4 linked regions of the Homo sapiens genome follow. The protein of the gene in region 1 purifies or fractionates together with the protein of each later gene. This does not show direct contact. Each region holds a gene or a part of one and is shown in the gene's direction. Other genes may lie near its edges.

Evidence for each region.
Region 2: the proteins of NLK (region 1) and FAM222B purify together in Homo sapiens (affinity purification with mass spectrometry; 2 studies listed by BioGRID and IntAct, with this or other methods). This does not show direct contact.
Region 3: the proteins of NLK (region 1) and FAM222A purify together in Homo sapiens (affinity purification with mass spectrometry; 3 studies listed by BioGRID and IntAct, with this or other methods). This does not show direct contact.
Region 4: the proteins of NLK (region 1) and SHANK2 purify together in Homo sapiens (affinity purification with mass spectrometry; 2 studies listed by BioGRID and IntAct, with this or other methods). This does not show direct contact.

The regions. Positions count from the first base shown.
Region 1 is NC_000017.11:28,163,957-28,172,398, forward strand, and holds part of NLK (serine/threonine-protein kinase NLK), read left to right. Parts: intron 1-4,491; coding exon 4,492-4,701; intron 4,702-8,442. UniProt on the Homo sapiens protein: Serine/threonine-protein kinase that regulates a number of transcription factors with key roles in cell fate determination. Positive effector of the non-canonical Wnt signaling pathway, acting downstream of WNT5A, MAP3K7/TAK1 and HIPK2.
Region 2 is NC_000017.11:28,754,849-28,763,290, reverse strand, and holds the end of FAM222B (protein FAM222B), read left to right. Parts: intron 1-1,134; exon of another isoform or gene 1,135-1,217; coding exon of another isoform or gene 1,218-1,305; intron 1,306-3,414; coding exon 3,415-5,021; 3' UTR 5,022-7,311; downstream 7,312-8,442.
Region 3 is NC_000012.12:109,736,770-109,745,211, forward strand, and holds part of FAM222A (protein FAM222A), read left to right. Parts: intron 1-1,240; exon of another isoform or gene 1,241-1,721; intron 1,722-2,136; exon of another isoform or gene 2,137-5,444; intron 5,445-7,331; 5' UTR 7,332-7,377; coding exon 7,378-7,459; intron 7,460-8,442.
Region 4 is NC_000011.10:70,465,913-70,472,578, reverse strand, and holds the end of SHANK2 (SH3 and multiple ankyrin repeat domains protein 2), read left to right. Parts: 3' UTR 1-4,725; downstream 4,726-6,666. UniProt on the Homo sapiens protein: Seems to be an adapter protein in the postsynaptic density (PSD) of excitatory synapses that interconnects receptors of the postsynaptic membrane including NMDA-type and metabotropic glutamate receptors, and the actin-based cytoskeleton.

The DNA.
Region 1 (8,442 bases):
TGTTTATATAAGAGAATGAAGTGTGACTTTTAGGAAGACCATTTACATTTTTACACAGCTAACATATCTATATGCTGTTTGACCAAGGTAGCAAAGTAAGAAGTAGAAACATATTTAAAAGGGATAGTGCTGGCCAGACACGGTGGCTCATGCCTGTAATTCCAGCATTTTGGGAGGCTGAGGCGGGCAGATTGCTTGAGCCCAGGAGTTCAAGACCAGCCTGGGCAATGCAGCAAAACCCCATCTCAATAAAAAATTCAAAAATTAGCTAGGTGTGGTTGCACATGCCTGTAGTTCCAGCTACTCAGAAGGCTGAGATGGGAGGATCACCTGAGCCCAGAGCGTGAAGGCTGCAGTGAGCTGTGATCACACCACTGCACTTCCACCTAGGTGACAGAGTGAGACCCTGTCTCAAAAAAAAAAAAAAAAAAAGTGAAAATGCCAAACCAGAAAAGGGTAATATGCATCTATCCAATGTATTTCCATAATGTATAGTAGCCAATTCTTAATTATTCCTCTGAAGAGGAATTGATTACAGAATTATATTTAGTAGTTCCAAAATTTCAAGTCATCAGTTTCAGTTTTACTTCTCTTCCCTAGTACAGCCATTGTCTTTCATTTAAAAAGGGGCTTGCAAATAGCAAAGTCCACATATTTGTATTTCCCTACCTCTAATACAGATGTGTATTGGCAGAACTCTTGAATAGAGAGAGGTCCACTATATTTTTCCTCATAATAGAAATTGGAAATAAGGGCCTTTAACTGCTATATTTGAAAAGAAAAATAAATTTTTAAAATGTTACCCACTTTAAAAGTAATCAAGACTATCATTATTACTTAGGTTGCTGGCGGTTAAACTAAGTAATAAAACCAAGTGTATAAATAAAATTCATTTTTTATTTTAAATGATTTCTCTGAACTGTAGGTCAGTTCTCTTGAAAAGCTGGTGGATTATACTGCTTATGAATGAAAATTCTCCCTTCATTATAGCCTTGAAGAACCCTCACCCTTATTTTAACTCAAGAAAGATGAAAACCTATTTTTCATATTTTCCCTAAAAATAGCTGATGTTGTAATTCAGTCTTTTGTTTCCACAGAGAAGTTAATTGCCACCAAAATCTACTAAAGTATTCCTTCTATAGGTTATTGAGTTTTTCCTGCCACCTTTTCACTTTTTAAAGAGAACTTGCAACCTATCCCCATAATCGTTTTTTAATTAAAAAAAAAATTTAAACCTTATAGTTAGAAATTTTTTTGTCCTATTCATACCTAATCAATCTTACGACAGTTTAAGCCAATTTCTTCTTATTTTGGTTTTTGATTGGAAGACTTCACACAGGATTTTGTGCAGGACCTGTCATGTTTGATGCCATTAACTGCTTGAAGTTCATTTTCCAAATTGTCCGTTATGGTTTTATAACCTTGGACTGTATGAATGGGCAACTAAAGGAAAATGCCATTTGTGAATACACAACACACAAATCAGAACAAACAAATTTTGCTCCACTCCTTTGACTCATCTTATGGGCCTACTTTTAAAAAGCCAGAATAGAGTCTAGGCTATAGACACTAGTTCTTTCTTCTCAAACATACAAATTCATTGAAGATCATTATAACAAAACATTTTTTAAAAATCAGTATCCTTCCATATCGTGAATGTATTTTGTTTCCTATTAAGCACAAGATGGATAATTTTGCTGGAATTTTTTTAGTTATCTGATCATGTAAGCTTCCTATTTTGGACTCAGGTTGTCTTCCAAATAAGTTGCTAAAAATGACGAAATCATACTGATGTTTTTAATAAGGGATTTGCTTTATAACAGAAGGCCTTTTTTTGTTGGATGGGTGGTTGGTTGGTTTTTCTCATATAAATATGAGAAAAAAATTATGTTCTTTCCTTTTGTTGGTTTGGTTTTTAAAAATATCCTCAAGAGTCATGGCCAAGTAATAGAGTTTTTAAAATATTATATGTTATTTTGGCCGGGCGCAGTGGCTCACGCCTGTAATCCCAGCACTGGGAGGCTGAGGTGGGCAGATCACTTGAGGCCAGGAACTTGAGACCAGCCTGGCCAACATGGCAAAACCCTGTCTCTACTAAAAATACAAAAATTAGCCAGGCGTGGTGGCGCATGCCACTAGTCCCAGCTGCTCAGGAGGCAGAGACACGAGAATCACTTGAACCTGAGAGGCAGACGTTGCAGTGAGCCGACATCATGTCAGTGCACTTCAGTCTGGGTGACAGAGTGAGACTGTCTCAAAAAATATATATATATATATGTTATTTGAACATATTTGATGAACTCGGGCTTTTGTTGTTATGTTATATGGTTTATCTGTATAGTATGGAAAATTTTCCTGCTTTCTTAAGTTGTAAAGATGGTGGCTTCATACTGATTCATTCCCACATACACATCTGAATTCATTTGATGTAACCAGACATAGTAGATTCAAATCAGAAAGAGGGGATTGCCAAAAATTGGGGGATAAATTTTGTTTTCTTTAGAACGGGGTTTTCAGATTTTCTTTTTAAGCTGCCGGAACTCTTTTTCAAATAAAATCTTATTTGGGGACTTCAATTTAGAAAACAGATTTAAAATCATATTTTATCACTTGCAATATTGTGACTTGTAAAGTTAATCAGTGAGAACACTGGAGCTTAGATGGCCATTACTATCTGATCTCATCCTCAGTGCTCCTAGTTGTGTTTTGATTGCCCAATATCAAGAAAATTTTAATTCCTAAAGATAAGTAGTAGTTGCTGGTGGTGGCACGGCTGCTGTTTATTAATAGCTCACCTTGTAACCCTCAGCATACTTTTCAGTTGAGCAGAAATAGCAAGAAAAGATTTATTTCTAAGTTTGTATAGAAGTTAACCTGTCTTTATTATTTATTGCTGTATCTCCAGATTCTAACATACAGTCTGTAATATAACAAGTACTAACTTAAATATTTATGGCATGAAGAAATGAATGAACCCCATAGCATTAGTATTCTACCATATACTGCATTTTAACATATTTATACATTTGAGTATGAATTTGTATTTTAAATAGATAGGTACATGTGAAGTTTGGATATAATATTCATGGAATGCCTAAAGTCAGAAGTAGATTCAACTGGAGTCAGTTTGAAACCCATTGCTTTAAAGAAATTCACATATATTTCATAAAGACGACAGACACAGTCTCAGCTAAGGAGACCTTCAAGATACACCCCTTTATCTTATGATATCTTCCTCTCTAAACTAGTCTTGAAAGTAATTGGTTTTGTGGGGGTTTTTAAATTTTTTTTAAAGATAGGGTCTCAATCTCACTCTGTCTCCCAGGCTGGAGTGCAGTGGCACAGTAATAGCTCACTGTAGCCTCAAACTCCTGGGCTCAAGCAGTCCTCCCACCTCAGCCTCCAGAGTAGCCGGGACTACAGGTGCACACCACCACGCCCAGCTTTTTTTTTTTTTAATTGTTTGTAGAGTTGAGATCTTGTTATGTTGTCCAGCCTGGTCTTAAACTCCTGATCTCTCAAGCAGTCCTCTCAATCCCTGGGATTACGGGCATGAGCCACTGTGCCTGGCCAACAGTTGGTCTCTAAATCAAACCTACAAGTATGCATTTGGCCAGGTGCAGTAGCTCACGCCTGTTATCCCAGCACTTTGGGAGGCCAAGGCAAGCAGATTGCTTGAACCCAGGAGTTCAAGACCAGCCTGGGCAACATGGCAAAACCTCATCCCTACAAAAAAAAAAAAAAACCCACAAAAATTAGCCAGGTGTGGTAGCACATGCCTGTAGTCCCAGCTACTCAGGAGACTGAGGTGGGAGGAGCCTCAGATCGATCACGCCACTGCACTCCAGCCAGGGAGACAGAGTGAGACCCTGTCTAAAAAAATAAATAAAGTCGTTTACGTTCACCTAGTTTTTTTTGCTTCGATTATCAACTGAAAACAGACATGTTTTTATTGATAAAGATGAGAAGAATATTTTTAAGAAAATGATGTAAGTTTGAGACTTTTTTCCTCTCTTAACCAAATAAAACCAGATTGTATATTGACATAAATATACTATACCTATATCATTAAAAATGTTCCAGAGTGGCCGGGCGCAGTGGCTCACACCTGTAATCCCAGCACTTTGGGAGGCCAAGGCAGATGGATCACCTGAGGTCAGGAGTTTGAGACCAGCCTGGCCAATATGGTGAAACCCCTTCTCTACTAAATAATACAAAAAAAAAAAAAAATTAGCCAGGCGTGGTGGTAGGCACCTGTAGTCCCAGCTATTCGGGAGGCTGAGGCAGAAGAATCCCTTGAACCCAGGAAGCAGAGGTTGCAGTGAGCTGAGATTGTGCCACTGCACTCCAGCCTGGGTGACAGAGTGAGACTCCATCTCAAAAAAAAAAAAAAAAGTTTCAAAGTTCAGTGCCCTATCAAAATTTTGATGTTTTGTTTTACTCTTTCATTTGTATTTGCTTGATAATGTTTTGATTGCCTTTTCTGTCTAGATTTGTGATTTTGGATTGGCCAGAGTGGAAGAATTAGATGAATCCCGTCATATGACTCAGGAAGTTGTTACTCAGTATTATCGGGCTCCAGAAATCCTGATGGGCAGCCGTCATTACAGCAATGCTATTGACATCTGGTCTGTGGGATGTATCTTTGCAGAACTACTAGGACGAAGAATATTGTTTCAGGCACAGAGTCCCATTCAGCAGGTATGATTTCAATTTAAGGCTTTAGTTGCAATTCTATTGCAGATTTGAAGGAAAATCCATCTTGCACATGTGTCTTGGGCTTATTCATTATACTGTCTAATTTGCTTTTAGGAAATTCAGGTTCACTTAAAATTCAGAAAGTTATAAAGTTGAAGATTACAAAGAGATTCATTTTGTAACTTATGAGCCTTTAGAGGGAGTATTGAGTTTATTTATGTATTTATTTATTATTATTATTATTTTTTGAGACGGAGTTTTGCTCTTGTTGCCCAGGCTGGAGTGCAATGGTGCCATTTTGGCTCACTGCAACCTCCACCTGCCAGGTTCAAGCGATTCTCCTGCCTCAGCCTCCCAAGTAGCTGGGATTACAGGCACGCTCCACCACACCTGGCTAGTTTTTGTATTTTTAGTAGAGACAGGGTTTTGCTGTATTGGCCAGGCTGGTCTCGAACTCCTGACCTCAGGTGATCCACCTGCCTCAGCCTCCCAAAGTGCTGGGATTACAGGCATGAGCCACTGCACCCGGCCAGTTGACTTTATTATATGCACTGATGCATAGCTGTGAGCTCTGCTATGACAATTTGCACAGGTATAATCTTCAGTTGTTAGAAGGCCTCTCTTCCTTCTAAGTGAATGGCTCTGACTTGAAAATGTATTGGTGACTTAATGTACTTACACTTTGTGCTTAGAATATAAATTTTTAGTGTGTTGATTTCTTGAAATCTGAACATTTAGGAAAATTTCTAACCTTTATTATTGGACTAAAATATCTAAATATGGCAGAGAACATCAGGAGATGATTAAAATATAATTTCCTCAGAGAATCCTTTAGAAGCCATTCATGTTACTTGAATTGTCTTTAAAGCTAATTATTCACTAATACACATATTGACATAATTACTGGGTATTTTGTATTAATTTGCTTGCATGAAAATAATGTAGTAACTATGAGCTCAGGCTGTGAAATCAGATTGGTGGGTTCAAATCCTAGCTGCACCACTTATGTTAAATCTTGGGTAAGTTACTTAACCTCTGTGTTCCTTTTTTTTTGCTGCTTCTTCTTCTTTTTTTTTTTTTTTTTTGGCCCCTAAAACTGTTCTGAGGATTGTTGTACAATGAAGTAGGAAAGCTGAAAACGGGGCCTGGCACATAGTAAGCACTCTGTAAATGTTTGCAATTACGATGGTGGTAGTGTGCCAGGACTCTAGGGATACAGCAGTAAATAAGACAGCATTGTTCTTAACCTTTGTGAAACTTTTACATGAGACAAAAATAAATATGCAAATAAATATGATTCCAAGTAATGGAAGTTCCATAAAGAAAAATGTAGCCAGGTTAGGGACAGACAATGGTGGCAGAGCAGAGCAGGCACTAAAGGATTCTCTGAGGATATAACATTTCACCCACATAAAATAAGGCAGTAAGATGCTGGAGAAATGTTCCAAGAAGAGGGACAACCACCATAACAAAGCCCCTGAGGCAGGAACAAGCATGGCATGTTGGAGGGAAGGTATGTGATGGAAGACGCTGTAGGAAATGAGGTCAGAAAGTGAGAAAGAACCTGGCCATGGTGACATGATAAAGCCTTAAGATTTTATTCTAAGTGTGATAGAAAACTTAAATGAAGGTTTTGACCAAAGGAATACTAAGATTTGATTGATGACATTTTAAAAGATCACACTGACTACTGTGTCTTTGTAAATAATTAATGCACTTGACCAGACAGAATTATTTCTTTTATGCTTTTTCTACAAAGAATTTTTACCTAATATGTTAGAAACTATATCTGCTTTTATCAACATTTAAATTTTTCTATGCTATACGTTTTAACTGTCTTTTTTAAAGTTTACATCTTAAAAATTGATTCTGGTGTTAAAAAAATTATGTACATATAATACTTAATCTAATGTTGGGTACTTTTGACAATATTCACTTTTCAATTTCTTCAGAAAGTAAAGTTTAACAGACTTAACCTGTAAGACTATCATATCTGGACATAAGCTGTCATAAAATGGATGTGACTACTACCTTGCATACAGAAAAGCTTAAGTAAAAAATAATAAGGAAGTATTCAAATCCTATATATGGAACAAGAATCTTGAATTGCTGCTGCAAAAAATATGTGAGGGAAAGTGTGAAGCAACTGGACTGGAGTTCAGATATCCCTTTGCTAGAGAAATACATAGATCTTCAGTTTGGCAGTCTGACATAGCCACTGCAGGAGAATTCATGTCTGTCTAATTGTTGGTGTGTGTTGGGGTGAGAAATGAAGATCTAAAATAGGAAAAGGCTCTAACTTCTAATGGAAGTCATTATTTCCTGTTGTATTTTCTCTGTATCTTTGAGATTTAATTACCCTGGTACTAGCAGACATCATAAAAGTGTTTCTCATGTATGGATCTGACCCATTTTAGACAACTTTCTGAATGTTTCAGTTTGTTTTTATAAGCTAGTCATTTCCTTCTGCCTTTAGTGTGGTTGTTAGAGATCCAAAAGTATCACCTACACACTTTTCCCAAAAAGCTTTGTATAGAGATCTTTATTTCTGTGGAAAGCAAGCTTCTCAAGTATCTCCATTAACCTGTAGGGTGTTGATGCTGATGGCTACCCCATGGTTTAGATAAGTGCAGAAAATAGTGCTTTATATTCGGCAAGCCCAGAACCAGGAAAAGAAGTGTTCTCTAGGTAAGAATTTCCCATCCTGGAAGGATCCAAATGAAATGTTATTGCTAATTAGGTTATGAAGTTAGAACAATTGTGACACTACAGAAAATTGGTAAGATAGTTTGCTACCCAAAGACTTGTTTGCAAGAAGACTGTTTTATTGGTCTCTTTTATTGTGTCCAGCTAGCTAAATGTGGTCTTATGTGGTGTCATATTTTTCTAAGTGTCACAGTTTTCTGCCAGCGTAAGAGATTTCTAGCATGACTAGAATGTAAAGGATGTGTACTGGCCCAAGCATGGAGAGCTTAGCTTTCATTTCAGGTGTGAATATTTTCAGTATTTATTAAATCACAGGTGTCTGATTTGTGGATTAGCACCTTGGTGAGCCTGAATCCATTTGAAGCATCAGAATCCATTCATTAACTGTTTGGAAAGAATAGTCATTAGGCATCAACAGAAGAGGAGTTCAACTTTGCAAAGATCTTAGATGCTATGGTATCAAGAAAACAGGACAGACATGCAGACTCCCAAATTGCTATAGCCTTAGAATGTCATGCTTATCAAAACATATTTTCTATATTTCTATCATATAAATAGGAACTTTTAAATAAATAAGTAGGAACTTTTAAATAATAGGATAAATAGGAACTAAATAATAGAATAAATAGGAATAGGATAAATAGAAATAGGATAAATAGGAATGGAATATATAGGATAATCCTATATATAATAAATAATATGTTAAATAGGAATAGGATAGATAGGAACTTTTAAATAATAAATAGGAATAATAACAGGAATTTATTTAAATTCCTTTACATGAGGAATTTATTTAAATTCCTTTACATGAGGAATTTATTTAAATTCCTTTACATGAGGAATTTATTTAAATTCCTTTACATGAGGAATTTATTTAAATTCCTTTACATGAGGAATTTATTTATTTTAAATTCCTTTACATGAGGAATTTATTTATTTTAAATTCCTTTACATGAGGAATTTATTTATTATAAATTCCTAGAAATCTTTTTTAATAGGCCAGAAAGTGAAAGTAGGGGCTCCTGTCAGTTAATCTAG
Region 2 (8,442 bases), 590 kb from region 1:
GTGAAAATGTTCATTGACTCTCGATCTTAGTAATTCTGTGAAGTAGGAGAGCAGAATTCATCCCTGTTGATAATTGAGGAATGACAGGCTCTCAGTATGGGCAAATGATGAAGCTAGTACTTGAATACAGGTTTCTCTAACCCTTTACAAACTACAGATTTCCTATTCCCTACATTGTCTATGTCTCTATTAATGACACTATTGGTATAAGCTATTTAAGTAAGTCGCTTACAAAGCTGTGGTATCTGTGTTGGCTGTGTAGTTACAGAAATACATTACAGAAGAAAATAAGTAGTCAGGGTGCCTGTGTGGGGGCTGTGATAAGTGTTGAGAAAACTTTTTTTTTTTTTTTTGAGACGGAGTCTTACTCTGTCACCCAGGTTGGAGTGCAGTGGTGCGATCTTGGCTCACTGCAACCCTGCCTCCCGGGTTTAAGCAATTCTTTGCCTCAGCCTCCCGAGTAGCTGGGATTACAGGCACCTGCCACCATGCCCGGCTAATTTTTTGTATTTTTTTAGTAGAGACGGGGTTTCTCCATCTTGGCCAGGCTGGTCTTGAACTCCTGACCTCGTGATCCACCCACCTCGGCCTCCCAAAGTGCTGGGATTACAGGCGTGAGCCACCATGCCCAGCTGAGAAAACTTTTTTTTTTTTTTTTTTTTTTGAGATGGAGTCTCGCTCTGTCACCCAGGCTGGAGTGCAGTGGTGCAATCTTTGCTCACTGCAACCTCCACCTGCCGGGTTCAAGCAATTCTCCTGCCTCAGCCTCCCAAGTAGCTGGGACTACAAGTGCGCTCCACCATCCCAGGCTAATTTTTTGTATTTTTAGTAGAGACAGGGTTTCACCATGCTGGGCAGGCTGGTCTTGAACTCCTGACCTCATGATCCACCCGCCTCGGCCTCCCAAAGTGCCAGGATTACAGGCATGAGCCACTGCGCCCAGCAGAAAACTTTTTTTAAGAGTTAGGCTTAAGTCTGGTATGTGAGGTAGATGGTGCTGTATTCCCAGAATGATACCCCTTTTTTGTTCAATATACTGTACTCATCTTTGGGGTTCTTCCTTAACAAAGCTACTGTAGCCTTGTGGCCACCCTCCCTACCCTCATTTCACTTTATTTCTGAATCCTTTGACAGCCCTCTTCACCATTTCAGCATCAGTGGAGGCAGGACAAAGAAAACTAATCAATGTGGATAAGTGTCCCCTTCCATACTCCTGAATGAGGTCAAGCTTCCCCCTTGCCTCTGCTAAAAAAAACCTCAGAGTTGGTACTAACTTGGAACAAAGGGACTCTTCTACTCATCAAGGTACTATACGACTTCTACTTGGATTTCAAGGAGAGAAGCCCACCAGCATGGAGGTGGGCTAGGTTTAAAGCACTGTGCTAGGAGTATTATATGAGATTATGACCAATAAGACACATAGGTACAGTGGTTGACCAAGGCAGCTTCTGTTGGAATTCTGATGTCTTGAGTTTAGGGACTTGCTCTCAATCAGTGATCCCAGACTTTTTTGCCAGTATTTGAAAGCACAGACCTGTTTTGGGAGGTGGGGATGCCTGGCTCTTTTTGCCCAGATCTGCTTGTGAGCATGGGCCCAAATCTCTCTGCCCCTCCTGACTTGAGCTTTCTTTTCCTGCTTCCCAGAGCAGGAGTTGCTAACCAGCATTATCACCAAACAAAGAGAGCTGTACCCATTTTCCTTCTAATATGCTCATTAGCCTACCTTTGTTCTAGGTGATGCCCAGTGATGTGACTTTGAATAGAGTCTCCTTTGGGCCAAGGCCACCTGAGGCCACAAGCTGGGCATTCAGTCAGATTAGTCGTTGGCCTATCCTCCTGCCTTTTGCAAGAGGAGGAAGTAAGGAGAGAGTCGGCTAGCTGAGCCTGGGCTTCCTGCCAAGCCACTTCTGCTTTGGGCAGTCTGTGTACTCATTCAGCAAGCATTTATTAGGCACCTTTTGTGTATACTCAGGGGAGACCCTCCCTCAGAGACGAGAGAGTAGAGCAGAGCCCCCTTGCAGGAGGTTGGCATCCTTAAAGAGCCCTTGTTCTCAGAACCTTTTCCTTTTTGACTGGAAGCCGGACATCCGCTGAGCCCCCTGATGGGAGGCAACAGGAGATGGGAACAAAGAGACTGTTAACATTAATGAGGCACACCGAGTGGGCATTTCCGCAGTCTCCAAAGGCAGGCAGGTTTTTCCTCTTTCTTTTTGGAAAATGACAGCTGACATGGACCAAATACAGACTATTTTTGGCTCTCAGGACTGAAAGGACTGAAAGATGCTCTGAATCCTTTCTTCTCAATTCCCTCCCTGCTGCCCTGTCATTATTATCTTCCTTCTCAAGCAAATAAATAAAGCCTTTGATCCTCATCCAGTCGGGCATAGAGTAAACTGTAAACAAAAGTGAACTTGTGACATGGGGAAGGGGAGAGATGTTGGCAGCTTATTCCTCTGCTCCTGAAAGGAAGCATTCTGTCTACTGTTCAGGGTGCCCACCCAGTGGGCAAAGCCCCCCAGCTGCCAAGATGCAAGGGAAAGCTGATCCCTCATTGGTCCCTGCAGACTGAAGAGTCGTAGCTCTGGGTACCCTCTAGACTGAAGGGCCACCATGGCCCTGACAAGGAGCTTTGCTTAGAACCTACCCCCAAGCCACATGGGCTGGTAGAGTTCCAGACCCTGCATTTCTCTCTTTTTTTTTTTTCTTTTTCTGAGACAGAGTCTTGCTCTGTCGCCCAGGTTGGAGTGCAGTGGTGCGATGTCGGCTCACTGCAACCTCCGCCTCCTGGGTTCAAGCAATTAATCCTCCTGCCTCAGCCTCCCAAGTAGCTGGGATTACAGGTGCTTGCCATCACGCCTGGCTAACTTTTTGTATTTTTAGTAGAGACGGGGTTTCGCCATGTTGCCCAGGCTGGTCTTGAACTCCTGACCTCAGATGATCCACCCACCTTGGCCTCCCAAAATGCTGGGATTTACAAGTGTGAGCCACCGTGCCCAGCGACCCTGAATTTCTGTGTAGGGGGAGAACTCTCGGTTACCTCTCTGAGAATTGGCCAAATTCTGGTTCTGCAAGATATGAGACTTTGAAAGATGCTTTGCTGTTCTGATCTCTACTTACCTCATTTATAAAATGTAAATGATGATAGTGCCTGCTTCTACAGCAATAGTGAGGATTCATTGAGATGGCCTGTCATCTGGCAGAAGGCCTGGCCCACTATAAGCACTTACTGAACATTAGCAGTGCTTGTTAATGTGAAGACTGAAGCTGGGTCTCGAATGAAGGCTACAGATGACAATCTAGTCATTTCCCCACCCCACCCCAGGCCCTCAAAAGGGGAATCTGGAAGGGCTGTTTGCCTTGGCACTGATGAGCTCCCTCTCCCTCTTTGCTCTCCTTCCCATTCTCTCTCTCTAGGGGACACTACACAGAAAATGAGAACTGCTCACTATCCTACCCCAGCCGAATTGGATGCGTATGCTAAGAAGGTCGCAAACAACCCACTGACTATAAAAATCTTCCCCAACAGTGTGAAGGTTCCCCAGCGGAAACACGTTCGTCGTACTGTGAACGGCCTCGACACATCAGCCCAGCGCTACAGCCCCTACCCGACACAGGCTGCCACCAAGGCAGGCCTGCTTGCCATTGTCAAAGTGCCAGCCAAAAGCATACTCAAGGACTTTGACGGCACCCGAGCCCGGTTGCTCCCTGAGGCCATCATGAACCCCCCAGTGGCACCCTATGCTACTGTGGCACCCAGCACTTTAGCCCACCCCCAGGCCCAGGCTCTGGCCCGCCAGCAGGCCCTGCAGCATGCACAGACCCTGGCCCATGCCCCTCCCCAGACGCTGCAGCACCCTCAGGGTATCCCGCCACCCCAGGCACTGTCCCACCCTCAGAGCCTCCAGCAGCCTCAGGGCCTGGGCCACCCTCAGCCCATGGCCCAAACCCAGGGCTTGGTCCACCCTCAGGCCCTGGCTCACCAGGGTCTCCAGCACCCCCACAATCCCTTGCTGCATGGAGGCCGGAAGATGCCAGACTCAGATGCCCCCCCGAATGTGACCGTGTCTACCTCAACTATCCCCCTTTCAATGGCGGCCACTCTGCAGCACAGCCAGCCTCCGGACCTGAGTAGCATCGTGCACCAGATCAACCAGTTTTGCCAGACGAGGGCAGGCATCAGCACTACCTCAGTGTGTGAGGGCCAGATCGCCAACCCCAGCCCCATTAGTCGCAGTCTGCTCATCAATGCAAGCACCCGGGTGTCGACCCACAGCGTCCCCACACCAATGCCTTCATGTGTGGTCAATCCCATGGAGCACACCCACGCGGCCACCGCCGCGTTGCCTGCTGCAGGTCCTGTCAACCTGCCCACAGGCATCTCTCGCGTCCCCACTGGCTACCCTAGCGACCTCAAGCCAGTCACCTGGAACCAGCACCAGCTGGCCCACCTACAGCAGATGTGCAGCGAGGCTAGTGGGACGCCAGCCCCTGGCCTGACAGGCAAGCATGCGGCAGGACGCGAGTTGGCAGGGCCTGGCTTTGTGGGCAAGGCCCCTGCCTACCCGCAGGAACTCTGCCTGGCGCAGTCCTTCCATCTGAAGCCACCCCTGGAAAAGCCGACCCCATCCCCACCAGTCAACGGCATGGCAGCCCCATTGGCCTACCCCAATGGTCACTACTTCCAACCCCTGTGGAACAACATTCTGCCCACTCCCAATAGCGACAGCTCGGGGTCTCAGGACCTTGCCATGCCGTTCCACGGTGGGCAGCCCACAGGTGCACCCCTCGACTGTGCGGCAGCTCCCGGGGCCCACTACCGAGCAGGGACCGGGGGCGGTCCAGTGGCAAGCCAGAACAGCTTGATGCAAACAGTGGATTACCTAAGTGGGGATTTCCAACAGGCCTGCTTCCGAGAACAGAGCCTGGCCATGCTGAGCAAGGCCCACCGAGCCCCTGGCAACCGAGCCCCCGATCCCACAGAGAGTCGAAGTCTTCATATTCAGCACCCAGGGTATAGATAGGTAGCCCTGCTGCCCTCCACGTGCAACACATCATACATCACCCTCCTAGGTTTAGTCTTTTAAGTAACTGGATAGTTTCAAAGTTTCACTGCTCCAGTGTGATCATTCTTAGATGTCTAAGAAAGGGAATTTGGTGGGATCTAAGTGGGGACAGAAGGGGTCCTCTCGTCCTCCCCTCCAGCAACTTTTGGTTTTATGTTAGAACCTAACCCTAAGCCCAGGCTTTTCTCTCCACTGACTGCCTGTCAGCTAGTCTCTCCACCTTGGCCATTTCCAGCCAGCTCCCACCCATCTTTTCTTGAATCTCTTCCTGTTTCCCTTAGGACGACTGAGGTGTGGGCTGACGGAATGCCCTAGTTGAGGTAGTATAGGTGCTCAGGCCCCTAATCCAGACCTCTACCTGTTGCTACCCCCCTTCCCCTCCCTCCAGGACTAAGAAGCAAGATTTCCCAGGTGCTCTGAAAGCTAATTACTTACTCATCGAAGGATCTCAAATCAAAGCTGACCCAGTCTTCATATCCTTCAAGTTCCTTTCCATTCCTCAAGGCTTTGTTTTGTGTCTATATTGATCCCACAGCCACTGCACTTGCCCTTGCCACACTTGATCTCAAGGGCATCTTGGAAGTATTTGACCATTTCTTGAGATATGGGGGGAAAAAGTCTTTGTATTGGCATCTTGGTTCCAGACTCCCCTTTCCAAACCTAGAAAAATACAGTGACCTTTGAGCATACCCAAGATCCCTTTCTCACTGTTGCCTGTCCCCTAACTCACCTCCCCACAGCCCCTATCCTTTCCCCCTCAACAAAAACAAAATCTACCTTACTTGAGGAATTAGGTAGGTAAGGAATGATCACATTGGAGTTTGGGATTAAAAACACCAAAAAAAAAAAAATGCATTTGGTTCTCTCTACACTGGCTAAGAATATTGCTCTACACTGTAAGTTTTAAACGTTACGTTTCTGTATGAATGTAGTGTGGGTTTGAGTAGCATTGTGTGTGAGTGGCCCCACAGGTACATTCACCCTCTAGTGCAGCCCCTCAGTTTAATGAAGGAAAAAAAAACAAACACAAAGCCTTAAGCTCTTTGAGTACTTCCTTTACCAAATGAGCATGGTTCTAACACCTGGAGCTGGGCCTACATTGGAAACAAGCCCCTCCTGCCCTCTGTCCATTCTTAGAGCATACCTTCATCCACTCCATGCTCAGCACGTCTCATCCCAAGCGACAATTAGTTGGCTAGAAACACTTTTCTGTAATTTTAAACTTAGACTGTTTTGTTACAAATTTTTGCACCATTCTGTTAAAGATGCAGAATTGGGCTTTTTTATTTTTTACAGATGAAATAAGCCCTTACCTTTCCTCTTGTCTCTGGGGAATGTCAGCTGATGGTTCTTATTTAAGGTTTTGCATTTTGTTCACTATCCACTACTGTTCGTTAGCCAGAAATTCTCTAGTGATCTGAAGCAATGTGACTGAAGACCAGTTTTAAGTTATGTGTTGGCAAGTTGCCTTATATTTAAAAGGAAAAAGAAAAAAAAAAAAGCCTGATTGTGTTATGCCAAATGATAGCAACATGAAGTCCTAATTTATTGTTCCCAATTGTTTTCCTGCCGTCTGTGAACACTGGTACCTCCCTGTCCTGATCCCCCAGGAGCACCTGTAGCTTCTGACTCAATGCCTTCTCCGAAGGTGTTGGCCGCCATCTCACCCAGGGCCCTCTTCCAGTTCCTGCTTTTCTGAGTCAGATTTAAAGAGCACCACTGTCTTCCCCCTACCCCTTGCTTGATCTCCAAAGCAGATATTCTTGCTGTATTTTTTTTTCCTCCCCAATACCTCTCCCTGAAAGGTGAGCTGCTATTTTAGGAAACTGGACCAGACACCAACTTGGGGGCTTTAAGTCAAACAACCTCAAACCCATCTCTTCCTGTGTAGGGGTGCAAGCCTCTGAAGCTCTCACTCCCACCCTTAGTCTGCATGGAAAATGTACTGTGATCCCCCTGCCCCCAACTGCCCTCGCCTTTGGTGTGAGATGTTCCTTCTTTCGGAGTTCAGCCTGAGTCCCTCTCCCCTCTGCCAGCCAACCCCCAGCCAGCAATAAGGGTCCAAGCCAGGGCCTCCTCTCCACACTCCCTGTCTCCATCCTACACTACCCTAGGGAATACCTGGATTCCCCATTCTATCCACATACTGTAGCATTCATTCTCCATCTCTCTCACCTCACCTGTGGTGGTTTATGGGTGTGATGGGGTTTTTAAGATTATTATAAACCAGTAAAAATAAGAAAACCTCGCTTTCTGACCTTGTTCTATTCGTTTAGTGCTGTGAATGTTTGAGGTAACTTTTTCTTAACAGTTTCTAACATACCTCACTTCATAGGAGTAATTCCTAATTTTTAAAAGGGGTACCCCTGTAATATGCATCCCACCCAGAAGCCGTCTCCAAATCCATTATTTAAGGCCAGGTGCTATGGTGATTGTAGACAGTTCTTCAATGAAACCCTGGACACAGGGTACCCGGCTGACAGGCCCTCTCCCTGGGCAGGGCTGCTGTGGGCTTACTGTGAAGTTTGAGGATAAGTGTGGTTTGCTGTCCCTCACTGGAGGCCCAAAAGGTCCTGCCACTTGCATTCCAAGGGCCATAAGTCATTGAGAAATGGCGATCTGGTTGTTTTGTTTTGTTTGAGGCGAAGTCTTGCTCTGTCGCCCAGGCTGGAGTCCAGTGGCACGATCTCGGCTCACTGCAACCTCCACTTCCCAGGTTCAAAGGATTCTCCTGTCTCAGCCTCCTGAGTAGCTGGGATTACAGGTGCCTGCCACCACGCTCAGCTAATTTTTTGTATTATTAGTAGAGATGGGGTTTCACCATGTTGGCCAGGCTGGTCTCGAACTCCCGACCTCAAGTGATACACCTGCCTCGGCCTCCCAAAGTGCTGAGATTACAGGCGTGAACCACCATGCCCAGCCAAGAAATGGGGATCTGGTTTGCTAATAACCCAACCTAAAACTTCAAACCTGCCTTCTTCCACTTCCAACACTTTGGAAATTCTGAGGGCCTCTGACAGAGGTGAAGGTGATAGGCACTGTTATCTGCAATGTAACTGGCTCCTCTTGGTGATTACAGTTTTCTTATGTTGAATTTTGGATAACTTTATTTTTTTGTCTGCAGAGGAAAAAAAAAAAACACTAAGTGATTGCAGCCAGGCACAGTGGCTCATGCCTGTAATCCCAGCACTTTGGGAGGCCAAAGCAGGTGGATCATCTGAGGTCAGGAGTTCAAGACCAACCTGACAAACACGGGGAAACCCAGTCTCTACTAACAATACAAAAATTAGCTGGGCGTGGTACCACGCGCCTGTAATTCCAGCTACTCAGGAGGGTGAGACAGGAGAATCGCTTGAACCTGGGAGGCGGAGGTTGCAGT
Region 3 (8,442 bases), on another chromosome or scaffold:
ACTATGCTCTCAGGCTGTACCCCGCCCCTTTCTCCAGGGCTCTTGCGCCGGGAGCTGGCCGTGGTGCTGACAGGCCCAGGAATGGCCACCTACCCCCAGACCCCAGCTGTGTGTCCCAGTAGGACACTTCCTGAGGCCCACCCTGCCCCAACTCCCTAGGACAGCCTCTTGCCCATCCTTTGTTCAGGAGACGTTTTCCTGAGGGCCCTGTGCTCAGGCACTGCTGTAGCACCGTGAACCCATAGAGGAAGGATCAAGGAGAGCCACATGGGACTCCAGTCATTTGACGATTCATCAAACATTTATTATGTACCTTGTATGTCTTGGAGAAGCCCTCAGGAACCCGGACTCCAATTGAAGGTCGAGTTGAGTTTTAAGGGGTAGAGAGCCAGAAAGGGCTTTTGAGCAGTCCTTCTGCTCAAAAGTCCTTCCTGGCTCTTGGGATTGCATGGGCCAAAGCCTGCAAGTGTGCAGGTGAGAGTCTTGTGCAGAGGGAAGCCCACCTCAGGACTCTGGCTGCCAGCCAGAATTGGTGATTGTCACTTTACTTTTTGGTCTCCCCTTTGGCTCAGAACTGCCAGCATCTCTGGCTCTAGTGCCCAGCCCAGAACCAGGCACAATGGAGGGGTGTTGGAGCCAGGCAGGGGACTGGCATCTTTGTCCTAGAAACCAAAGAGCCAGGTATGCTCTGTGACAAGATTTGCAGCATTTTAGAGAGCCCCTGGCCTGCTGGGGTGGGGACAGATACAGTGGTAATTCTGGCAGAAGATGAGGCCTCCTATTCAAGGGGACAGTACCTCCCCAGCCCCCAACCTTAAAAAAAAAAAAAAAAGGTAAAAATCCCCTTCTGGTGCTGAGGCCCAAATGGCAGTGGGAAATAATCACTTTTCACAGGCCCCTTATCCACAGCCAAGCCCTGTGCCAGTTTAATCAGCAGTGCCGGTGTGACTTGAAGAATCCCCGGCTTGAGAGATCAGGAGAGGGGTTAAAGAAAATTACCCTCGCCTCCTCCATGCTAATGTAATCTCTAACCAGATCTGCCTAGCCGCAGCTCAAATTGCTTTTTAGATTAACATTTAATTATTAACAGGGTCCCTTGGAAGGCCTCCGGCTCAGAACAGAGATGGGGGAGGGAGCGGCAGGAGGGAGGTGGGGATGGGCTTCTACTCTGGCTGCCTTGCTGAGACAAGCGGGGTGGGAGAGAGAGGAAGGAGCAAGGGAAGAGGGGTCAGGAAGGGAGAAAGAGAGAGAGACAGCAGGAAGGAGAAGGGAGGCATCAGGACAGGAGGCAGGTGGAGCTAAGGACAGGGATGTAGACAGAGGAGAGGAAAGAGACAGACAGTGGATCTTCCTGTCGTGGGAGCCCCTAAGGGGGTTGGGGGAAGCTTGCACCTAGATTCCTGAGGACATTCCTGGGCTGGGCAAGGGTCCCTCCACTCTTCCTGGCCAGAAGCAGGTTTGCTGCCCCTCATTATTTAGAGAGGTCTGGACTTTCTGAGGCTTTCTACTTGCTCAGCTCGTGGTGCTGGGGACCAACACAGAGAAGTGACCCATTTAGGGCCACACCACCAGGGTCTGACCCTAGTATTCCCAATCCAGCATTCATTCTCTTCCCCGGGCCCTGGGCCTCTCACCACCATTTCAGGCTCCTATCTGCCTTTGGAGCAGGCTGTGTGGCCAGGCAGCGTGAAGAGACTTGAATTACAGCCAGAGGGATGGAGGTGAGAACTGTGGGAGGGCTCCCTCACCACCCACCTATCCTGCCACCACCCCCAGGAAGGCTGCGAGGCCCTGAGGAGTGGCCAGCATCTCATTCACTTCCTGAAAGGGAATTCAGAGTCTGAACCATCTACTCTACTCCTTGCATGATGAACTGCTGGGTTTTGCCAGCTTCCTATCTTGTCCCTGCTCGAGATTCTAAGTCCCTCAAAGACAATGGCTACGTCTAGAGCCCCTTTGTGTGCCCACAGTTCAGGGACTGCCCCACACCTTGTACACAGCTGGATTAAGTTTGGAAACCAAATGATCACATCCTCTTATGTCCAAGTTAGATGGCCCTCATACTATCAGCTGGTCCACTCCCCATAAAGGTTCATTTGGGAAACAGACTCAGAGAGGTGCTGTGACTTCCTCCAGGTCACCCAGCCAGTGAGAACCCCAGTGCCTGGCCCCTGCCTGGCAGGTACAACCCAGAGGCCTCTGGGGCCAGCTCTCTTCTCTGAACTAGTCCTGTTGGACACCAGGAAGGGCCTGGCATGACCTTCCCCTCCAGGTCACAGCTAGGCTTTGGCCTTGAATGGAGCCACAGAAGCCAGGTGGGTAGCTCTAGGGATTGGAGGTAGAGGAGGAGATGGGGGCTCAGAGGCGCAGCCCATGGCTTTCCCGGGGTCACAATCTCAGGGCCCTGCCGTGAAGCCAGGTGTGTCCTCCTCCTATTCTGCCTTGGGGTCAACCCAGCCTGGCAAGGGGCAGACTGCTGACCTGTGGACACGAGGGAAAGTTCCAGATGCCTGCCACATCAGGAAAATGCTGGAGGCAGAGAGAGGTCAGGAACATTCATTTTTATTGGGAGGTCAGTTCTGGCTAGATGTTCCTTTCTGGCAGGACACTTTGAGTCATTTCCGTCCTCCCAGTACATGGCACAGGGCTGGCCCTCAAAAGATGCTTGGGAAGTGTTTGCTGCCTAAATGAATGAATGGGTGGGTAAGAAGCAAGGCCTGGGCTTTACTCATCTCAGTGTTGTTCTGCCCAATGCTGGCCTCCTGATTTGCGCTCCTTGAATGTTTATGGGATGAATAAGTGGCCTCTGGGAGCCCTTCCCCTCCTCTCACCCCTTCCTTCTGTGATCCCAGCCCCTCCCACAGTAGAATCAAAATGGATTTGGGCCCTGGGGAGAAGCAGACCCTTGCTTCCATCCCTCCCTGCCCAGTTGACTGGGAGCTGAGGGCTGACGGGCCCCCAACCACGATGGAGCTGCTGTACAGTGTGGGGCTGAGGGACTGACTGGCATTGGCATCCTTGGGCTCTGCTATCTAAAAGCTATGTGACCTTGCACAGATGGCCTTCCCTCTTTGTGGCCATTTCCTAAGCTGTGAAATGGAGCCACAGAGGCCACGAGGAGGAGGCGCATGGGCTTGGTACAGAGGGCAGTCAATACATGCTCACCACCGTTAAGAGCCCAAATTGCATGTTGCTCTTTCAGAGCTTCCCCTCCCACTGGCCCGTGGGCTCCCTGACGCCCCCTGCAGCCAGACAGGCGAGGGCGAGATGACAAAAGGCAAGCAGGGCCCAAGCCCCCAAATCCCTGTTCTTTTCATAAAAACAGAGACAGCCTCCTCCCATTCATTGTTCTGCTAAGGCGAGCATCACAGACTCAATTCCTCCTCGGACCTGAAAAGTTCCTTCCTTCCTTTCCCCTCCCCTGTCACATTTCCTTTATCTAAATCCTCAGCTATGAAAGGACACATCGACAGCTGGGGGCGTTATCTGGTGGAGGGGACCTTTTCCTCGGGTGTCTCCGAGATAAGGCGTCTTATCAGCCCCCATGTCAGGGAAGGTGCCAAGCATTCTAATCATTGAGGCATGCGACGTTTTTCCCCTCCCTGCCCCCCCTTTTTTTATTAAAGTCACAAAAGACCTTGAGCTTATAAACAGTCTGATTTGCAGATAGGGTTTCAAAATGAACAGTGCTCCCTGGATGGTGCTTGGCCAGGGGGGTAATGAGTCCAGGCGGGGACTCTGAGAGGCTGGCCTCCTGCAGATGGGATGATGCCAGGCAGGGAGGGGGCAAGATGGGGTCACAGAAAGAACATGAGTGTTTTAGGCACATGCCCCAGTCCTGTCCCTGCCTTGCTGTGTGACCTTGTTTGGGACGCTTGGCTTCTCTGGGCCTAGATCACTTTATCTGACAATAACCAATTCATTGATTCGGCCATTCATTCAACACCTATCTAGTAAATGATTACTCTTGCCAGGCACTGGGGAGAGACAGACAAATAAGACACGGTCCCTACCCCTAAGAAACACAGTCCAGCGGAGGGAGAGAGATGTGAAAATTGGCAATTACACCTTGGTGTGATTAGAGCAGAGATGGTGGATATCTAGAGGAAGGGAAGGGTGAGCCAGGGTCTGAAGACAGATCTGAGTTCGAACGGATCAGGGTCACGGTGCCGTAGGCAGGAGAACCAGCAGGGGCAGAGGTCTGGAGGTGTGAGGCAGCCTGGCTGGAAGGAGGGCCAGGGGGAGCCAAGAGGGAGATGAGGTGTGGTGGGCAAAGAGGGCTGGGCTCCACGCCGGGGCCAGAGAGGTTTTAAGGCCAAGGAGGGGGATTTGACCGTCTTGGTTGCAGATGATGGGGATGATGCAGGAGTTGGAGGTGGTGGTCCCCTCCCCACTTCCCTCCTAGGACACCCCACCACCCTGCCATGTGCCCCCAGTGGCAGGACACAGGGTTCCTGGGAGAATGGGCAGTGAGTTGGGAGAACTGGGGTTGCAGAGAGAAAAAAGTCCCTCCTCTTTAAGTGAAGAGCATCTCTCAGGCTGCCTGTAGCCCTCCAGAAGCAAGGAATGGGAGGATGTAGGCAGCTGCCCTGGCAAAGCTGAGCCAAAGCTGAGGCCTACACTTGGACACCATCACACCCTGAAAACCCCTCCCAGCTCCCAGAACTGCCTGGCATCCACCATAAGAGCACGCTGACAACTAGAGCCCTGCTGGGAAGGGAGCTGATGGGGTCCCAGGAGGCTCCAGAATAGGCGACCTGCCCCTTCCCCAACAATTGCAGCCCCCAGCCCACCCTTTTTCAACTGCAAAGCATGTGGGATGTATGGCCCAAGGGACATTAGGGCACCTAGAGAAGGGCTGGACTTCTGGACCCCAGTAAAAGGCTGGAGATAGGGCCGGGCATGGCCAGGACTCTGGAAGAAAGTGACCTGGAGGTACCCACAGGGATCATGGAGCCACTGTTACAGGCCAGAGAGGGTCATTAACCCAGCCGGGGTCACACAGGGTGTGCTGGGAGGCAAGGAGGTTCCAGCCTTCCAGCCCAGGTTTCCACAGGGCACCAGCCTCTGACCTCCCTCCTTACTGGCCTGGGTGCAGCCAAGCTCAGTGGTGAGGGGGTAAGTGCACCCAGCCACTCCCTGCCTGGCAGGCCACTGCTCCCTGTGGCTTGGGTTTCCCATTTGTGGAGGGAGAGGTCTTGGACTGGCTTTCTCCGGATCTCCCTCCTTTCCCCCAACCCCTATGTCAGAGCGGCTAGAGATGGACTCTGCCCTGGAGCAGGGGCCACAGAAAGAGGCTGGGGCAGGGTGAGGGAGGTTGCCACAGGCCTCTTACCTTCCAGATTGCACATGATTGTGAGTCTCCATAGACCATCCGACTGTGCGTAAGAGGGTGCCTGTAAGTGCAGAGGAACATGCCATGCAGCAAACACATATGTACATAGGTGAGTGTGTACCAGGGTGTGTGTGCACACCCAGCCCTCCCTGTGCACATGCACGGCGTGTCCTCCAGGGCTGGTGTCCAAGGCTGTGGTGATGGCAGGCCCGAGTCAGGCCTGCTCCCGCCACCTGCTCACATTCCAAGTCCCCGAGGAGAGGAGCAGCACTGCCTTCCTGCAGTCAAGGACTTTCATCCCTGCAATAAGCCCCACTTCATTCCCTTTTTAAACTGTATAATTTCTGCCTGATTGTAATGGCCTATTTTAAAATTACCAGAAATCAAAGCCGGGAAGTGGATACTGCAGCTTTTATTGCGTCTCTGTGTTAAGGCTGGCGATTGGGGAGGGGGCGGTGAGAATCACCTCCCCTCCCCTCCATCCTCCACTCTCTCTCTCTCTCGCTCTTTTTTTTTTTTTCTTGAGACAGTAATAGGAGAAAATTGGTTTTGAAACTGAATAAAAGTCCCTTTCAGAGGAAATCATTTCTTTCAGGGTACCTTTGCTGAAAGTAAAATAGGGCATAATGAAAGGTGGTTACGCGATTGTCTTTCATTTACCGAGAGGCCAGGACAGACGGGAGGCTGCAACCGTCTCCGGGAAATACAAGATTGGAATAATTGCGCCGTAACAAGGAGCTTGTTGTGAAATTAGTATCTTAAGAAAGTAGTGAAAAAAGGCTTTTCCTCATGAATACTTCATTATTAGAAGAAAGCGGCAGAATTTAGGACTCCAGACACCTGTTTAGTATTAAATAACTTCCCTTTCTTCCCCTTCAACACCCCCTCTGCTTTCTTCTTCTTTTTTAAAACCAACATGAAGATTGAGGTGATCCAGCTTGGCTGCTCAGGACTGTGGGAGGTCAGGAAGTGGTGGGGACAGGGTGCCCGGGAAGATGGACATCAGGGGTGTCCGGGGTTGAGCTCACCCTGAGACCTGCCTTCTCCTTAGCAAGAAGGGAGGAAGGGACCTCTAGGTAAGCTCCCACCGCCACCCTCCCATTGGGGCCTCACAGGCAGGCCCACTCTGACCCTGCCAGTCAGGGGCTTTGGGCTCTCAGGAATGTGCCTGGGCCTCCTGAAACGTTCTCTGCAGGAGAGTGGGTTTGGGGAAGCTGAAGGCAAGTGTCTGTGTGAATGTCAGGCTCTGGCCGTTGGGGAAGGTACCACACGGGCCTGTGTGCAGCCACATCTGAGCTGCTGCCCTGCGGGGCACAGATCTCTGCCCTTCCCATTCAGGGTAAGGAGCTCAGGCAGCGACAGGGATCTCGGGTCAGGGCAGCCTTGATGGCCCATTGGGGCTGGGCTCAGGGTGCAGCATGGATCAAGGTTCAAGAGCCCCTTGTTCTCTCAGGAAAGCCATCCTGACATCTCCCCTCCAGGGGGGCTATGAGGATGCCCTGGGCGGGAGACAGACCAGTACTTCAGTAACCTGGGACACCCATGTACCCACTGGCATTTCCCGAGCACCCCTCTGTGTAGATGCCCAAGATGACCAAGTGGGGTCTTCAGGCTGACTTGCTTACAGGGGGCCACCACCGGCCGGAAGCACAGCCTGCTGCGGGGCACGGAGGGAGTGAGGATCTCACCCAGTTGGGGGCATCAGGGCAGGCCCCAGAGCAGATGACCCAGATGCCGAGCAGGGCCGGGGCATGTGTGATCCATCAGTCCAGCCCCCACTCAAGAGCCCTGGATTCTGTCCCTTCCCATGAGGCCACAGATGGGCCTCTTGATGCCTCAGGCCTTGGTCCCCTCATTGGTCGAATAAGGGAAATGGGTGTCTGCTTTGAGAGTCTCTGATGTTCTTCGGGGTTGCAGGGAGACTCCCGGGGGGAATGGTGGGAGGCGAACACGGAGCAGCCCCCAAGTGACAGAGCACCCCATCTTCCTCCTGCAGGGACCCAGTCGCAGAGCGCACCCCACTGGGGACCCCCAGCTCAGCCATGCTGGCCTGTCTGCAGAGGACCCAGAACGCCCCGGGCCAACACCTGGCCTGCCCGAGCAAGAGCCTGGAGCTGCGCAAGTGTGAGTAGGACGCCTCCCCAGCCTTTGCAGGGCAGGTCGTGGGCAGAGAACGCCATTCACCCCCCAGGATGTCCACCTACCATGGCCCTGTCGGAAAGTCTCTATGCTCTCTTAGGCCCCCAGGCCTTGGCCCCGGCTGTGCTGCCTTCCTGGTCTCCATCCCCAAAATGACACCCACTCCTTTGGCCAGCTCCTGTGGAGCAAGACTCTCAACTCTGGCTTGACCTCCTTCCCAGCAGCCTCTTCTGACCACCACCATCGCCATGCCCCAACCCCGCCTCTGCAACTTCACCACCATTATCTAGCCATGTGTGTCTCCCTTACCACCATTAAAGTAGGATGACGTGGAAGCAAAAAATAGACAGAATGGGGTCCCCGCTTGAGGCCCATGAGCTGTGTGGTCTTGGGTGTTTCCTTCCCTCTCTGGCCTTGCTTTTTCACTGGGACCTAGACCTGGTGACCAGGGGTCTGTTCTCACTATCTAGGACCAGGATCTGAAACGCTCTGATTTGGTTATTTTTAGCTATCATAATTTCTTTTTTAATGAAGTACTTAGAAACGGAGATTTGCATTAAAATATGGATTTCTACTATCTCTTGAAAAAAACAAAAACAGAGGCTCTGGTAACATAGGCCTGTGTGCCTGTATTGCAGCTATGGTTAGAGCTGAATGACTGCCTCTTTTAAAGGGATGTCTGTCTCCAGGTCACCGCGGTCCCCACCCCTCCCTATTGCTTCTGTGCTATAGCCCAGGATCCGTTGCCATTTAGCATGATGCTTACAATGTGAAAATATTTTTTTTCTTTTAAATATTTATCTTTAGACAAGGGAACATATTCATGTTATGCAACACTTGGAGGAAGGAAGGGGTATATAGACAAAAGCCTCCCTCTGGGCCAGCCACCCGCTTCCCTCGCAGAGGGGGTCCATGTCGTCAGCTTCCTGGGTGTCCTTCCAGATGTTTTATGTGCATCCCAGCAAATA
Region 4 (6,666 bases), on another chromosome or scaffold:
GCTTTGCCGGGTCCGAGAGGCTCCCCGTCAATTTTGCACGGGATCCTAGCTCTTGTAGGCAGACACCAGTGCACTCTAGATACCTCCTGAGACCTCCGTCCTCTGCTTTCCGGGCAGCTCTCACCACCCCAGGCCCCGGCATGAGGCCTTTCCTCAGTCCTGTGGCCTCTCAGAGGACACCTGATGCTCACCTGCCCCTCTTTCTCCTGCACTTGGCTTGCAGTGAGATGCTCCCAGATGCATTTGTCCAGTGCCCCATCATGGGCCTGAAAGGCAGAGAAACTTTTTCCTACACAGATTCTTTTCCCCATCTCCTCCTGTGGTTTGCATCCATGGCTCTTTGGCCATGAGGTTCCTGGCAGTGCTGGGAGTTTGGATGGGATCGTGCCCAGCTTTGCTTAGCTTTCTTTATTTCTGCAAATCTGTTAGCATAATTCCAAGGTGGCCAAGCAGATGTCACATGGAGTTAGTCAAAGCACAAAGTCACGATTCCACAATGGAGGGGAGACCTGGCCAAGGGAGCCAGCCAGCGTGCAACTGCCCAAGCTCCAGGTCTCCAGGACAAGAGCAGTTGTCTGCCATGAGCACCCATCCAGGATGGAGAATAAGGGCTTCTCTGCCTCTCAGAATTCTTTTTAATTGAAGATGTCTTGAGCTCTGCAAAGATCAGAGCAGGTGAGCATCCACTTTGACATGAAGGACAAGAAGACGCATGGCTCATGGCGGGCACATGCGGCTGCCAGTGAGACAGCGTCTCCTCTGGGAGCTGGGCGGGCACAGCATCCTCAGTTCTGTGCCCAGCCAAGGGTGAGCATCTCTGCTGAGACAGTCCTTTTGCTCTCGGAGGCCAGGGAAGATGGTACTTAGAGGCTTTTCCCCTATCGCTCTGGGTGTCTAGGAATCCCACCAGCTTGTCTTAACAGTACAACAGCTTCTTTGAGGACCCAGTGGGTATGGAGTATAGACAGAACCCAGGGTTGAGAACAGAAGGTGGGCGGCAGGATCAGAGTGAAAGCAGAGGCGTGAGGAGAGGAAAGCAGGGAGGTCTCCTGGGCTGCCAGGTCAGCCTCTCTGGCAAGGCTTTCTTGAGCCCCGCCCCTTTCTTTCCCCGGAGTCCCTCCACCCCATAACAATACCTCGAATTTCCAAAAGAGGTCACCAGATGCACATGGGCCGCAAAACACACAGTCAGGCTTCCAGCACATTCTCCCCCATTTGGAGGATACTCGAATGTCAGGTTTTTGGTTTTATTATTATTTCAGAACTAGCTCAGCCCATCTCTAATTATAAAACATGGTTTTGTTTTTTTTTTTTCCTTTTTTTCTTGATTAGGTCTGGAACAGCTCTAGAATGAACACATAAAATTTAGCAATTTAAAATCTTTCTTTACTGCAAGTTTAAATAGTTGTACAGATAGTTTATAAGCACAATATTTTAAGAAAAAAAAGTGGCTGGTCTACTAGGCAGCCTTTGTGCCACTTCAGTGCTAGAAAGTTAAAGAAAAAAAAACTTTTGTGATTTAATAATACTATTTCTGTGGAATAATTATAAAAGTATGACCTTTTTAAATCAACCTTATTTGGATGCATCTGAACCAGCAGAGCTGTGTTATATTTTCTATCTTTGCTAGAACTTCGTCATTGAAGGACAATTTCTTCAAAGTGGTTACAATTCATAATGCAGCAGTTTCTCCAAAAACAAAAACAAAACACACACCACACACACGCGCTTTTCCAGTCACACACCCCTGATGTTGGAACCAAGTTTTTGGACCTTCTGTTCCAAAACCTTTTGCAGGTCAATCTTTGTATTTGAAATGATCCAATCCAACTTGAAGTCAATTGAATATTAAGGCGCTTTACTTCCGTGTGCTTTCAGTTTTTCCATCATGAGATGAATGAGCATTACTCTAGATAAATTTCAAGACAGGATACTACAGGTGGCCTGCTGAGGCTGCCCCATATTTTAGAAAATGTAAAAATGGTGGTTTGGCCATTAATTTGTCTTCCATTTGATGATACCGCAAAATTCCGTGAGTCCATTCCTTTGGCATGGCACTTTCCCTGGGCCTACAGTTGGTATTACCTCTGTGCTCAGTGCCAGGCAAAACACTAGCTCAAAGGAGAGTCAAGGAAACCGCTGGCAGACGATAACCAGTCGAAACTCGTGACTTCGGTTTGTTGAACTTTGGCAGCCAGTTGGTGAGGGCCAGATGTTATTCCCTTTCTTAAAGATACTCCAAGCCACATGCCACTAACCACAAGCAAGCTGGCTGCAAGACTAAAGAGCTGATAACATAGTTTATTTTTACACTGTCTTATTATAGAGAAGTAATAGACCTATCAGAACCTGCACTGACCAACAAATAAACACATGTTGCCAAGATGAATCGGTCTCTATCTCTATCTGCTTATTTTGGTACTGAAAGCAATAGTTCCTCATTCAAATCACCACCCACTGTTCTCCCCCTTTGGGACATGTTAGGACGAGGCCCTATTCCATGCCCCTCTTTAATGGTGGAACAAATGTTAAACTGCTCATCTAAAGATCATGTTGATATTATTCCAGGTTTTAAGATCAACTTTTGTTACATACTGTAATTTAAATAAACTGCATTTACATGCCTAGTTTCTGTAATATTGTGTATACAAAACCCAAATCTCTCAAAATGTAAATTATGTATACCTGCCAAGATACCTTTTCCAGGGTGTCTGCGCACATTTTAAGTTAATTCACATAATATAAAAATTACTCAATGTGACTGTTGATTTGCTGAACTTTACATATCACAAAGTGAATTATTTGTGATACTTTAGTTAATAAAATGGTAAATTTTTTTCTCAGTTATTGAACAAGCAAGCATTATCCAGTTGATCTGGCAATGACTTTTTGTGTGTGGGCCACAATATTGATTTTCCCATTAACAATTTTTTTTTGTTTTTTAAATACTAATATGTTTCACACTATAGTTTGTGTAACAACACGTGTTCGCATTATCTATGTTGCTGTTACTTTTGTGCTTTTATTCTTTTTAGACTTTATAAAAAAAAAAAAAAGCTCCTGTAATTTGCACTTTCTCCCAATCCTTAAATCTCTTGTATGGCAACCAAAATTACTGTAAAAAAATAAATATACTATTGCACTAAGGTTGTGGTTCTGATTGCAAACAAACAGTGAACACTGTCTGAATTAAACAAAAAGCTGCCCGACTTGCAATCTAATGTAGATTATCTCAGGCATTGTGGCCAGCTCTGCCTCTCTAAAACTGACCAGAAAAATCTCTCTCATCGAGTAAACAGGCTCCTGTCACTGAGCTAATCTGCCTTGGTTCCATTTCCTTATTCTCAATTTATCAATGGATACGTGCATGTTATTTCAGAATTATGCAAAACGTCAAAATCTGCTTCTGTGACCGCTGCTATAGGCGTGGAGCTGAGGCTCGGCTTTTCCTTTTGTTCTGGGTGGAAGCAGCGGTGCCGCGGAGGGCCAGCCAGATCCGGACCCTTCCCTTAGGGTCCAGTCTCCCCACACCCCAGCAGGGTGTCTTCTAGCCATAAGGCCAAGGGAGTGGCAGAACTGGGCCGCCTCTCTGGTTGACAAGCAAACCACATGCTAAGGCTTGGAGCAAGAGAGAATTTGTGTCTATTGGCAAAGAACTAAGCCAGGAAGACATGGGCCATCCCTCCGCTTTAGGGAAGCATATTTTAAACCTAAACGTTGAACTTCTTCTTTGGCCTCACCAGTGAAAACTTGTTGTCTTTAGTTCCTAAAGTTTCTTCTACTTTGGCACATTCCCCAGTTGAGCAGCAGCCTCTATGCTTCCACGTTCAGGAAAAATTCCAGTCCTCATATCTTTTGTAGTTCACCCTCAAGCTCTCCCGCTTCACCATCCAATAGTTTCTCCCAAACCTTGGCACCCCCCTAGACTTTGCTTCCAATGGTTTCTTCCAGACCACTTTTCCTAGATGAATATATTCGTTTACCTTACTAGGAAAATTATTGGAAGATTTTTTCTTTTACTTGAAATTGGAGGCATTTTAATAACTGGCGAACTGGAATGTGTTTCTGTATTTGTAGACAACCATGAACCCATGCAAGTAGGTGAACATTCCACAGTGGCTGGGTGACCACAGCAGCTGCATGCAGACAGGACTGCCCGTGCTTTGTGGGGAATCAGAGAATTTCCAAACTTGTTTCTCAGACTTCCGCAGATCTCATCACTTTGATTTCTAATCCATGCTGTATTGGTGATTTTGTTTATCGTTCCTGTAACTTGTTCTACATTCCACAGTCTTTACCGTTTTATGTTCAAAATTACAACAATCCCTGTCCATTGATTCCACTCTGGAACTCTTTGTTCATGCCAATTTTGAAATTTTAATACGAGCCTTCAAATAAACACAGAAAAGAAAAAAAAAAAGGAAAAAAAATAAAGTGTGTGCCTTGGGTGTTTTGAACCTGATCTGCATAAAACCATATTGTATTCAAATGCTGTATCTTTCATGAAAGGATAAATATATCTTCAATGTATTAATGTAGCTGATAAAATAGTTATAGTGCCTTGTTTTCTGAACTGAGAAGCCCATATCAATGCACAACGTAAAGAAAGGACGGTTCGAGCTATGAAATGTTGAGGACACCTACACGTGATTCTGGAGCCTTTCTCATCATAAGACTGTGGAAAATACACAGTCGTTTAAGTTAAAAATAAAAAGTAAATTGAAATAAGATTGTGTTATCAATTAATTTTCCATTAAAAGTGCTCTCTACTGTATCATTTTCAGTATTTTCATTTAATTAAAATACAAAATGTGTTTGAGGATTTTCATGGAAAGGAGAAAAGTTTAACCACAGGAGCCCTGGGCTCTCTGACCTACTCCCCTTGTGCTGTGCCGCCCCCCGGTGGTACTCATTGGTAATGCTTAACGAAGCCATCAATATCAATCATTTCGACGTTTTGTTATAAATATACACAAATTCATTTTTAGTGATTGAGGCCACTCATTGCAGGAAAACTGTTTCCATTTTTCACAAGTGAAAGTGGCAACATGTGTGTTTTTCTTTCGACAAAAAAACGATGTGAGAAGTACATCAGTGTAATTCTTGTCTCAATGCTGTCATGCTCCATTTGCTTTAAGTGCGAAGCTTCCCTGAGCAGCCTCTGCCTTTCTAGAGGATGAGCCTGCGGTGTAGTGAGCATATTAGGGCTGCCATCTGCCTGTGGGACCAGAATAGCCACAGCAATAGTGAGCGTTTGTGGGATTCCGGACAGATGGGAGCGGCAGCAGCCCCATCTTCTCGGGGGCCCCCCCGCAAACAGGCCGCAGAAGTTCTGGAGGCAGAGCACTGCCACAGGCTGTCCTGCCACACACATCTCTCCAGGGAGTGAGGAGCTACTCAGATCCAGAACTCCCCACTGTGCCTGCTCAGCTCACAGACTATTATCGGTGTGGCTATTTACCAGCCAGAAGAGTCCACTGGAATTCAGACTGTGTAGTTTCAGGCAACAATGCAGCCAATAATCCAAGAACCTGCAGGGTGCTCAGGGAGATGTGGCCAAAGCTTCTTGGTCACCCTGCTCCACATGTGCTGCTACCTCCGCTCCAAGTATGAAGCATGTGTCTGAGAGCCAGAGGAGGGGCCCTGGCACTGCTCACAGCCACTGGGTAAGACCTGGCAGCCAGGCCCTAGGCCCCCATGAGGTAGGGACCACGGAAATGGCCCAGTTCACAGGACAGAGTGTGGAGACCCCTCACCAGCCACCTGCATCTGGGGGCCGGCCCCTCTGACGCGGTGCTCCTGGAAGGCAAGCCATCCTGCCATTGCCCAACTGTAGTCATCTCTGCCCAAGATGACTGCAAAAACAGAATTAAGCGTGTTCTCCAAACCCCAGAACCCGGGGAGTGGGAAAAACACATAGCCCCTGCAGCCCTGCAGAGGTGGCCACAAGCACAAGCATTCTGTGTGTATACCCAAGAGGCGGTACAGGTTGGAAACAGCACTCAGTCTACCTAGTGCTATCTGGGACGGGCACCGTTCAGATCACTGCACCCACCACGTGGCTAAAAGCCCTGTGAGGTAACAACTAAAGCCCTATTTCCCAGATGAGGAAACTAAGTCTTGCCAAGGTCCACAGCAAGTGGAGAAGCAGAGGTTGCTGTGCAGCTTCCCAAGTCTATCTACAGGTGACAGAACCCAGCCCGGGGCCTTGGGAACCATCGCTGGCTCCGAATCTGCTCCACCCACAGGGTGCTTCCTCTCCCTGCCCCATCTGACGTCATATGTGCAGGGCTAAGAATTCAGGAGGCGGGGCAAGGGGGGAGTCCCTACCAGCTGAATCACCTCAGGGTTGTGGAAAACGAAGACCGAATTCAGTGGCAATCTGGTTACCTTAATTCACTCCACTGGGATCAGGAGAACCAAGACCTAGAAACCCCTGTTTCTCAGAGAAAGGACCCAACATTTGTAAAGTCCCCTTGGCTTAGAGGGCATGTGACACATGGATCTGCTTTAATTCCCACAAGAATCCTATGAGGTTAAGCATCACTGAGGTGACTATCTCCTTTTCTCACGAGGACACCGAGGCTTGGAGAACCAGTTGCCATTGCCCATGGCCTCCAGGCACCTACACAAGTTATCCCCAGACTGTGGGCCCTCACCATGGGG